Linked DNA regions of Homo sapiens: region 2 is linked to region 1. Evidence: fine-mapped expression QTL. Tissue or cell type: whole blood. Region 1 holds a variant in brackets; the other region holds the start of a gene. All regions are shown on one strand. Distances are between the middles of the regions.

Region 1 (5,147 bases):
AAATGTTTCACGATATAGAAGTTAAAGAGTATGCCAGTCACTTGAGGGTTGACCAATGTGAACTGTTATTTCCTAGACTTGAGTACATGCCGCATGTGGTCTATATAAACATTCTTTAAGTTCCTTTGAAATAGACCCACACATATATGGAAAACTGATTTTCAAGAAAGGCGCCAAAGCAATTCAATGGAAAAAGGAAAGTCTTTCCAACAATCCATGTTAGAACAACTGGGAAAATGTATGCAAAAATATGAACCTTGACTTCTACTTAACCCCATATATAAAAATCAACTGGAGATAGATCATAAACTAAAGCATAAAAGCTAAAGCTATAAGTCTTCTAACAGAAGGCACAGAGAAATATCTGCACAATCCTGGGGAGGCAGATTACTTAGGAAACAAAAAATACAGATAATATAGAAATCTTTGTTTTAATTTTTAAAAATATATTTTATTTTTTTGTAGAGAGTTGAGGTCTTGCTATGTTACCTAAGCTGCTCTCAAACTCCTGGGCTCAAGCGATCTTCCCCTGCCTTGGCCTCGCAAAGGAAAAACATTTTTGATCAATGAAATTATTTCAAAGTTAAAACCTTCTGCTCATCAAAAGACACTTTTAAAAAACAGCAGGTAGACCATAGACTGGCAAAATATTTGCATTATAAACTTCTGACAAGAATATTTTATTCAGAATATGTATAACATTCCTACCAACCAAAATAATAAGACAATCCAATTTTAAAACAGGCAAAAGAAAAACAGACTCAAACGACTTGAACAGACACTTCAAAAGGGAAGATACACAAATGGCCAATAAGTATATGTGATTCATCTAGAAAATGCAAATTGAAAACTACAATGAGATACTACTTCATATCCAAGAGAACGACTATAAGTAGAAAAACCAGCAATATACAATGTTAAGATACCTGGTCACCTGGAACTTTCATAAATTGCTTGTTGGAGTGTAAAATGGTACGATTACTTTGGAAAATGACTTGGCAGTTTCTTACAGAGGTACACATACACCTAGTGTACGGTGCAGCAATTAAACCTAAAAAAGAGTGAGAGTGGGCCAGGTGTGGTGGCTCACGCCTGTAATCCCAGCACTTTGAGAGGCCGAGGCTGGTGGATCATTTGAGGTCAGGAGTTTGAGACTAGCCTGGCCAACATGGTGAAAGCCCATCTCTACTAAAATTTTAAAAATTAGCCAGGTGTGGTGGTGCGTGCCTGTAGTCCCAGCTACTCAGAAGGCTGAGGCAGGAGAATCGCTTAAGCCTGGGAGGTAGAGGTTGCAGTGAGCTGAGATTGCCCCACTGCAGCTCAGCCTGGGTGACACAGTGGGACTGTCTCAAAATAAAAAATAAAAAAAGAAAGAAAAGAAAAAGAGTGAGAGTGAGAGAAAACTCATTCACAGCAGCTTAATATTCATAGTAGCCAAAAATGGGGAAATAATCAATATGTCAGTCAACAAGAGAACAGAGTTTAAAATTGGGTCTATTCATACAATGGAATACCACCCAGCAATAAAGGAAGAATGATACAGACAACTATATAAAACTGTTGCGTGAAAAAAAAAGCCAGACGCAAAAGAGTATATACTGCATGATTCCATTTAGAGGAAGCTCAAGAACAAGACTGCAATGATAGAAAGCAGAAAGTTTTTGCCAGTGAGGGTGGCGAATGACTGAATGGGGCAAGAGGAAACCTGGTGATAGAAACGTTCTCTCTCTTAACTGGGGTCTGGGAACAGGAGTACACTGAATGTCTGTGCATTTCAATGCATGTAAATTTTACATCAATTAAAATGGAGGGATGGTAGGATTTCCTTAATTGTCTTGACATCCCCATGTCCTCCTGAAGAATGCAATTTGATTCGCACACTTAGATCCCATCAAATGGTGCCTGTATCTGGATTACTTCAGTTCACAACTAGCCATGGCTCTCTCTTCTCTGGGGGACCATCCATACAAGGTATTTCCTCCAGAGGAAAAGAAAGAATTTGCTGGTTCTCCTCTCATTCAACAGTAATAGCCAACCAATAGGCCAGGTCCCAGAACCAGTGTGGGAGTGTTCTACATTCTTGCAGTCACAGAATGTTTTTTTTAGGCCCACCATTTTTCAGCAGACATCTGACAATCCACACTCAGAAACATTCTTCATCTCTAGGAAGTTATGCGAAATAGGTGGGAGAAACAAGGTGTGGAAAGGGGGTGTTTGGCATAGGCTGATGATAGATGTTCTGGTCAATACCAGGAATAAAATCCCAAGTGTGTTCTGCTTGCCTGGGAGCTCACACCCTCAGAGCTAAGTAGATTTCACTACTCTCCATCTCTGCTTCCAAGGGCATGGCCTCAGAGGACTTGCTCTTTGATCTAGAACTGTACAGGAGGCTCTAAGCTGGTAAACAACTTACAGGGGTACAGAGGTCAGATAGGAGAAGGCCCTTATGACCCTTACTATCTTCAACTGTCTCTAAGCAGCTACATTAAAAATAGCTAACATCCATCACTATTACTTTGCAAATTTTAGAGATAGATTTTAGCCTCCTAGTATTGTGCTAGAAATGAGGCTAGGCCTGAGAAGAACCTAAAGCTTCCATCATGTTGCAGTAATTGGCCCTAACTGTGGAATACCTCTGAGAAAGATCTCCAGGGATTTTTCACAAAGAAACTGCTTTCTAAGTAAAAGGAGGGAAGCATGAGATGGAAACATCAATTCAGGCTTTCTTCTGACACAAACGGACACCACTTGTGTCACAAAAGTTAAAGAACTAGTCAACATCTTACTTTTCCCATCTTCACAGTGTCTGCTGACACTTTCAGGACCGACCTGACGAACATGACAAAGGGATAATTAACAAGGGTTTGGAGATTTTTTCCACAAAGGAGATGGGAAAAGAGAATGTGAATTGCTTCTTATAAG[G/A]AAAAGAAGAGGGAGTATGAGGGTCTATAGCCCAAGAAATAAATAGTACAGAAGGGAAGAATAGGAAATTCTCTCAGAAGCTCTTATGCTAAAGGGCAGGGAAGAAATCAAGCAAGCGTATCCACATTTAATTTGTATTAAGATCAGGAACAAGTACCACTACTTAAAGATTTTTTTAAATGACTAAGTTGGATGTTTTACAAGATGCAACTTTCTTCTAGCAACAAAGCTAAAAGATCCTCTTATGGGGCTCTATGATTAATGGCTATGTCTTTACTGGCTGGAAAGTGTATCTTTGTATAATAGTGTCAGCCCACTGTTTCCTCCCAATCCAGTAATTGTGAGGGTTTGTTTTCCCAAGCCCCAGTACCCACTGCAGTCATCATGCTCCATCTAATCTTTTTCCTGGCTAAATGCCTGACTAAAGGTATTTCCAATTTACTTGTTCAGATATATTTCTGACAAATCAACAAATGAAAGTACTTCTCCTTTCATGATGGCGGTCAGGGCGCCTGGAAGACCCCACTACGGTTATAAAAGGGGTATGTAGACCCACAACAACAACAAGTTTCAGGGGCCTGAGAGATTTCACCAAATGTCAGGAAGCCAGAAGGATGTGGGGAGAGCACTGAGCGATGAAGCTGAGCAGAGGCAGCTTACAGCCCGGAGAGTTCTGAGCGGGTACTGCCAAGGCAGTGAAGAGTTGATTTTATTCAGATGGACCCCAAACAGGCTCCAGACTCAGGAAAAGTAAGAACTGTGACAGAAGTGACAAGAAAGGTAGAAAGGAGAAGAGTAATTGAAAAGTCTGGAAATAACAATTATTCTTTTCATGACTACTTCCTGTCTTTATAAAAAAAAACCTTATAGCTTCCCCACTTCAGAGCAAAAATAAGAAAAGGGAGATAATTTTCTAAAAAAAATTAAACAAACGTCTGGTGAAGACTAAATAGCTAGTGTGGTTAAGAGAACCCCACAGTCAAGCCCTCCTCATTCTGACATCTAGCAGTTCCCCAGCAAGAGGGCTCAGGGTGGCTCTGTGTACCCAGGCTGAAGCCTGCTAGAGGCAGATGCTGTCATGCAGAACTTCTAGGCAGCCGTAATGGCACTTCATTTTTAAAAAGAAAATCAAATATATATTTTAAAAGTCTGCAACATGAAAGAGAAAAACCAAGATAAACAACAATAACAAAAAAGAAACAGAATATTTAAGAAAAAGATTTTTTTCTAAAAAAACTAAAAAAAAACCCCCAATTTATTAGTATTCCTGGAAATATTTGAGAATTACATCAACATAACAACAACAACAACAACAAAAAAGAACTACAAGAAAAAGCTCTATGAAATTAAAAATGCAAGCCTCAAATAACAATAGGGAACACTATGTGTGCACATGCTTGAGTAACTTAACCTCACACTTGTACTTCTTTTTTCCTTTTTTTCTTTTCTTTTTTTTTTCCTGAGACACAGTCTCATTCTGTCGCCCAGGCTGGAGTGCAGTAGCGTGATCTCAGCTCACTGCAACCTCTGCCTCCCAGGTTCAAGCAATTTTCCTTTCTCAGTCTCCCAAGTAGCTGGGATTACAGGTGTGCACCACCACGTGCAGCTAACTTTTGTATTTTTAGTAGGAATGGGTTTTTGCCATGTTGGCCAGGCTGGTCTCAAACTCCTGACCTCAAGTGCTCCACCCACCTCAGACTCCCAAAGTGTTGGGATTACAGGCGTGAAACACCACACCCAGCCTTTGTATTTCTGATTTAATCTACCATATAGACAATACCTTACCTAGAATGTGTTATATTTTACAGTACTGTCAACAGTTTGTAATGGCATATGTGGACTATGTTCATGACAAAGGGACAGTGCCACCATGTCCACTGTTCAAGAAAACCTGAGTCTGTTTTTAACTCCTCTGCAAGTTTACAGTTTACTTCTCTCAATACCTGCTCATCTTTTCTACAGAAGGGGAGTAACCAAAAGTCACAGGTTTTTTTTGTTTTCGTTTTGTTTTTTTGAGACAGAGTATCACTCTGTCACCCAGGCTGGAGTGCAGTGGTACAATCTCGGCTCACTGAAACCTCTGTCTCCCAGGTTCATGCAATTCTCCTGCCTCAGCCTCCTGAGTAGCTGGGATTACAGGAGTGTGCCATCACACACGGCTGATTTTTATATTTTTAGTAGAGACAAGGTTTTACTATGTTGGCCAGGCTGGTCTTGAACTCCTG
Region 2 (5,147 bases), 150 kb after region 1:
ACCCCGCCTTCTGGAAACCTGCGCCTGGGGTGGGGTTGAAGAGACACTGTCTGGTATCCTAAAGTCAGAGGGCGTGAGGAGACCGGCGCCCTTCGCCCCACCCAGGCGCGCTGCACCCTCCGGTCCCCGTCTCTAGAGTGCACCAAGGCATCCTGCGTCCCTGCCGGAGAAAAGAGGGACGGGGCCAGAGGCCCGAGTTCCAGGGAGTTGCTGATTCCAGTGGAGAACCGAGACACCGCGTCCTTTCTAATTAATAAGCACGCCACCCCCTACCTCCAACCCCCCCCCCCGCCCCGCCTTTATTTCTTGTTGACAGCAAAGGTGGGGGACGTGGGAGAAAGGCAAGAGTTGTCTCTAGGTTCGGGATGTTGGGCTGCGCGGAGGGAAGAGGTGGGATCTCGAAATGGAAACAGTCCCCCCTTCCTCCCCCCTCCCCTCCTCCTCCTCCTCCTCCTCTTCTTCTGTTTACCTCAAGTTTGAATTTTATCTGCGCAACATTAGCTGGAATGCGGACATTGAAAAAAAAAAAAAAACACTCTCTCAGCCCGGCAGCAGCTCCGGAGGAGCCATGTGGCATCAAGCCACAGCAAAGGGGAAAAAGTGCTCTTAGCAACACAAACATGGCGAAATCGCTCTCACAAGCCGGGTTCCCGCGACAGCCCTACCTTCCCCCGCTCGCCTTCCGAACGTCCTGGCCAGGAACCGCAGACCCCTTCCGGGGGACGGCGAGGGGGCCCCGGGCTGAGCGAGGGTGGGCGCACGGGGCGTGCTAAGGGGAAATTGACTAGCCAGCCGATCAGCTCCGCCGGCAGCGGAGGGGACGCCTTCTTCACGCCCTGAGATCGCAAAGGAGAGCAAAATTCCCATCCCAAAGTCCTGCGGGACCGGCTTCCCCACCCGACGAACTTACCCCAGGGCTGAACGCACGCTGCTTTAGCTCCTTGCCTCGTTCCTTCCTCCCGGGCGCGACGCGAGGTGAAAATGATGCGCACGTAGATTTGTAGAGCGTATTCTTGAGAATTTCCCTGGGATGAATCGGGAGGAGCGGTGGAGACTCCGGAGACAGGTGCCGCGCTGGTCTGGGCTGCCGGCTAAAAGTTGTCCTCCGCGCGGTGGGCGGTGGGGTCCCCGGCCAGGGCCAAGGACCCCGGCTCCCTGCCCCCCGGCGTCGCCCACTTGTCACGCCAGGCTGCTGCGTGCACTCGGCTGCAGGGGAGGTGGCGTAGTTTCTCTTCCTCCCACCTCTTCTCACTCACTTGTTTTTGTAGCCGTGGGCTCCCCTAATGCTTTCCTCTCCACAATGTTGTTTCATTATATCATGTCCATCATGTGACACCAGAGAGGCCTCTCTATGGAAACTTAAAGGGGCTCCCACGTGACTGCAGCAGCAACAACAGCAGCAGGACTGGCGGCGGCGGCCGCAGCGGCGTCCGTACCTCCACCCACCGGGAGCCCCTCGAAGCATCCCGGAGGGGCTTCTGGCGCTGCAGGAGCCCCGATCGGGGAGCCACAGCATCCGGGAGCCGTGGTGTCTGTGCGTGCGTGGAGCCTGTGCTCATGACATAGGAAGCCGAACAGAAGGAGCGTCCTCAAATCCTTTCCTACAGTCACCAAACCCACGCTCTGTTAAAATGACATTTCGTGGCTCCTACTTTGTTTCCCCGGAGAGCAATGAGTTTTCTATCAGGCCTGATTTAGTTTGACAAAAGTCAAAAAGAAAAACTGGATTTGTCCCTCTGCGAGTTCAGTCAGATCGCTGGGAAAACAGAAATGACAAAACAATAATAACAGAAATAGAACCAGGCATTTGATACATAATTACCATCACCACGGCTTTCAAGCTTTCTGGAATTACGTTCCTCCAGTAACTGTTGATGATGCTTGCAGGAGGCAAAATGCAATGCAGTTTTTCTCTTCCGCAGCTATATTAGGGCTTTGTTGCTGACAACAGTGAAAACTTGTTTGTGTCAGGAAGTGAGGTACGGAGATATGACCTGGAAGGTACAGACAAAACCAAAGTGGCAGTTTTTGCATTACTTTTCTGACCACATTCTTTCAAATGGTGACAAGAAGGCGGTCTGCTGTAAAATTCGTGGGGTGTTTGATGGGAAACAAAATAATCAGAAAAACATAATTATCCCTAGCCATACCATACTTGCTAGACGCTAGAAAGTATACATATATGTAATCTCTGTATACATAGAGAAAGCAAAAAGCATGTGCACTTTAATATTTTTGAACCACTAATTTTGTCATCATTTGTACCATTAACAAACACTTGGAAAGACTCACTCAAGTCCAGGGATGTGTGGAAACTCACAATGTTGAGTGCTGTGGGTATTACTGACTCACAGTCCCTTAAAGGGTTTGTACCATAAATCCCAAATTTCTGCCTTAAAGTTTTTACAGACATGGAGATTTTATCCTGTAAATCTAAGCCAGATAGCTATTTCTGGGTTTTTTAGTTCATGCTTTTCCATTTTATAAAGGAAACTGTGTGGATTGGCGGAATCAAGAAAAACTTCGCAAGAAACTGAAGAGTGGGATGGAAGATCTTTTCGTTTGGCCTTGCCTTGACTCTGTCTCTCTCCACCTCATCAGTTTACTTCATCAGCCATGATGAATGAGCTCCATTCCAACCCTTCTAATTCTATAATATCTCTCCCAAGTTTTACCTTCCTATCTCATGCCTAATTCTTTTCATCCCTTTCCTCCTACCTCCCTTGCCTCCCAACTCAGCCCCTTTTCTGCCTGGGGGCTCAGCTCGGGCCTCCCCAAAGACTGTACCCCCCACCCTCCCCTGCAGCTACCCCCACCCCCACGCCCTTCCCAGCTCGGCCTCTCTTCTTTGCAACTCTACCTCCTTACCTCTTTTGACCTCTAATCACCTTCACAGTCTGGCCCTTGACTTCTGGGCCTCTTCTTACCTCTCTTTACCTGAAATGTCCTGGCCCTCACTGGGGTCTCCTCCACACCCTTCTCTCTGGTCCCATCCCTTCTGCTGCCAAGCCCCAGCGTTCCTCCGGCTCGGCCTGGTCAGCTTGAGCCTCATTTTGTTCGCGTGCCCCTGGGCTGGGAAAGGAGTGTGTGGTGCACAGTGGGGCCAAGGATCCCCTGGGGCCGCGGCCTCTGCCTCGCCCCCTCCACCCCTCCCGAGTCCCGGTTGCGGCGCTTCCTGGGCGGATGGCTTGAAATTGCTGCAGCAGCTGCGGTTCTGCTGTGTCATGCAAGAAGGAGGCGGCGGCGGCGGCGGCGGCGGCCGGAGCTGGAGGGGGAGGAGGGGAGGAACCTGATCCTCCGGTAGCGAAGGGCTAGAGGCAAACACCGAGCTCCTCCAGAGCCGCCCGGGAGCAGGGAGGGCTCCGCTAGCCCGGGGGGCCCTCCCCGCGGGGCAGATGGTAAGTGGGGCGGTGCAGGTGGTCGCCTTGGGAAGGGAGCGCGCAGGGGGGTAAGGTGGGGCGGCGGGAAGTGCTAGAAGTCACCCCAGCCAAACTGAAGGAGCCCAGTTTCCAGCTGAGAGGGACCCAGGCCGTAATAAGGATGTCCAGCCAAACGCAGCAATAATTACTATTGGAGTGACGCCCCGAAGTTGACCCCAAGCTACACAGAGGGTGGAGTGGTGCATCCTGAACCCAGGACAGAGCTGGAGGCAATGATTCAGGGTTTGAGAAGTATCAGCCCATCGGCCTGGCGCTTTAAGGTGCAGCTGAGTAGGAAAAGCCAACCCACATCATATTCCCAGAGCCTTGCTGCGCTTTCTGGGTTGTCTTGTTCAAAACTAGTGAAAGGGATGGGAAACCTGCCCAACCTCACTTTAGCCACGAAAATAATGCTCTTGGCCAGTGGCCTTGGACAAACAGCCTCTGGTGCAACAAAACAATCAATAGGAAGAAGAACTTCATTCCCCTCACCATCCTCCTTCCCCAAGTTCCTTTGACCAGCATACCTCATTCGGCTTAAAGGAGAAAGAAAACTATGTGTGACATTCCCTCCCAGCCTACCTGCAGCCAGCCTCCTCACCACACAAACTGCCCATCCCGCTTCTCTCCTCATCTTCAGAGCCATGATTCCAAGAGACATTGCAATACTACTCACTTTAGGTGAGAAGACTGCCTGAAACTCTGAACAATTTCACCTCCCTTGCCCTTTGCCACAGGGGATTCAGAAACCTACAACTGAGAGCAGGGAAATATACGGACAGGCTTGGCACGTAGGAACATTACTTCCTTCACTGGAGTGTAGTTCTCCAGACAACTTTTTAATTATGATTATTCCCTTCCATTGCACTCCTGGAAATTTCAAAGCACTTTCTAAAACATCATTTTTTTTATGTCAGTCATACATTTAGAGGTAAGGGGTTGATGGGATTAACTGAAAGGCTAATGACTGTCTCAAAAGCACATGCTGTTGCTAGGGAACCCAAGCTCCTGCTGCTCTCTAATCACCAGCGTGTTCCGTGGAAATCAAACTGCTCAGGGTGTTATTAAAATGAATGGCATCGGGTTAAAGGCATTCTTGCTTATGTTGTAGCATCCTGGATTATTATCGATTGCCTCACACCCACATATCTTGTTTTCCTAATTTGATTTCTGTATTTGCGTCACTGCCAGGGACACTCAGACTAGACCAGTCAGTTCACTTCCTGTTTCTCAGAACTGGTTTATATTTGGTCTCGTAGCACTAGCTGGTAAAACATTATCAAACTGATCCTCTTGGAAAGAAATCTTTGCTTCCCATTGAAAACAAAATATTCCAATTAAATTGTAATTCCTGTGGAAAACGTCATCATTTGAGGAGTAGACTGCCAGTTGCCATTTGAGAAACAATCCTTGAAATGTAAAGCCTAGAAAAAAAAAACATCATCTTGATTTCTTTTACCCAGAATCTTCATTCCTCAGCACTAGAACTAAGACAAACTCGAGTAAAGAGTAGATTTAAGTATACTTCTAAAATGAAACGCATAAATAAATAAATAAATAAATAAATAAATACATGTCGAAGCTGGGGAAATCATTTAGACTAAACAAGGCATAAAATTGAATGGAATCCAGGCCCAGGAAGGACAAGTAATTTTGGGTTAGCATTGTGGCATTCGGAGAACACAGTGTGACTACAAGGCTACACTACAAATAGGAAACCCCATCACT

The links. PIP is the estimated chance that this variant, and not a neighbour inherited with it, causes the effect.
Region 2: LINC-PINT starts here. The variant in region 1 is fine-mapped to the expression of LINC-PINT in whole blood (INTERVAL, PIP 0.92).

What each region holds. Positions count from the first base shown.
Region 1 is chr7:130,953,386-130,958,532 of GRCh38, forward strand. The region is part of intron 5 of LINC-PINT (long intergenic non-protein coding RNA, p53 induced transcript); the gene reads right to left. Among named protein-coding and RNA genes, the nearest start is that of LINC00513, 42 kb to the left of the region's middle. RefSeq lists a silencer at 3,883-3,932 and an enhancer at 4,734-4,793. The variant G/A (reference allele first, on the strand shown) is at 2,923.
Region 2 is chr7:131,106,810-131,111,956 of GRCh38, forward strand. LINC-PINT (long intergenic non-protein coding RNA, p53 induced transcript) reads right to left here and starts at 3,116. Exons shown (of 8, transcript NR_170176.1): 1 at 2,928-3,116; 2 at 911-1,994. It also overlaps a transcript of MKLN1 not described here. RefSeq lists silencers at 1,005-1,054, 1,075-1,134, 3,192-3,241, 3,322-3,471, 4,622-4,681 and enhancers at 1,117-1,968, 4,363-4,904.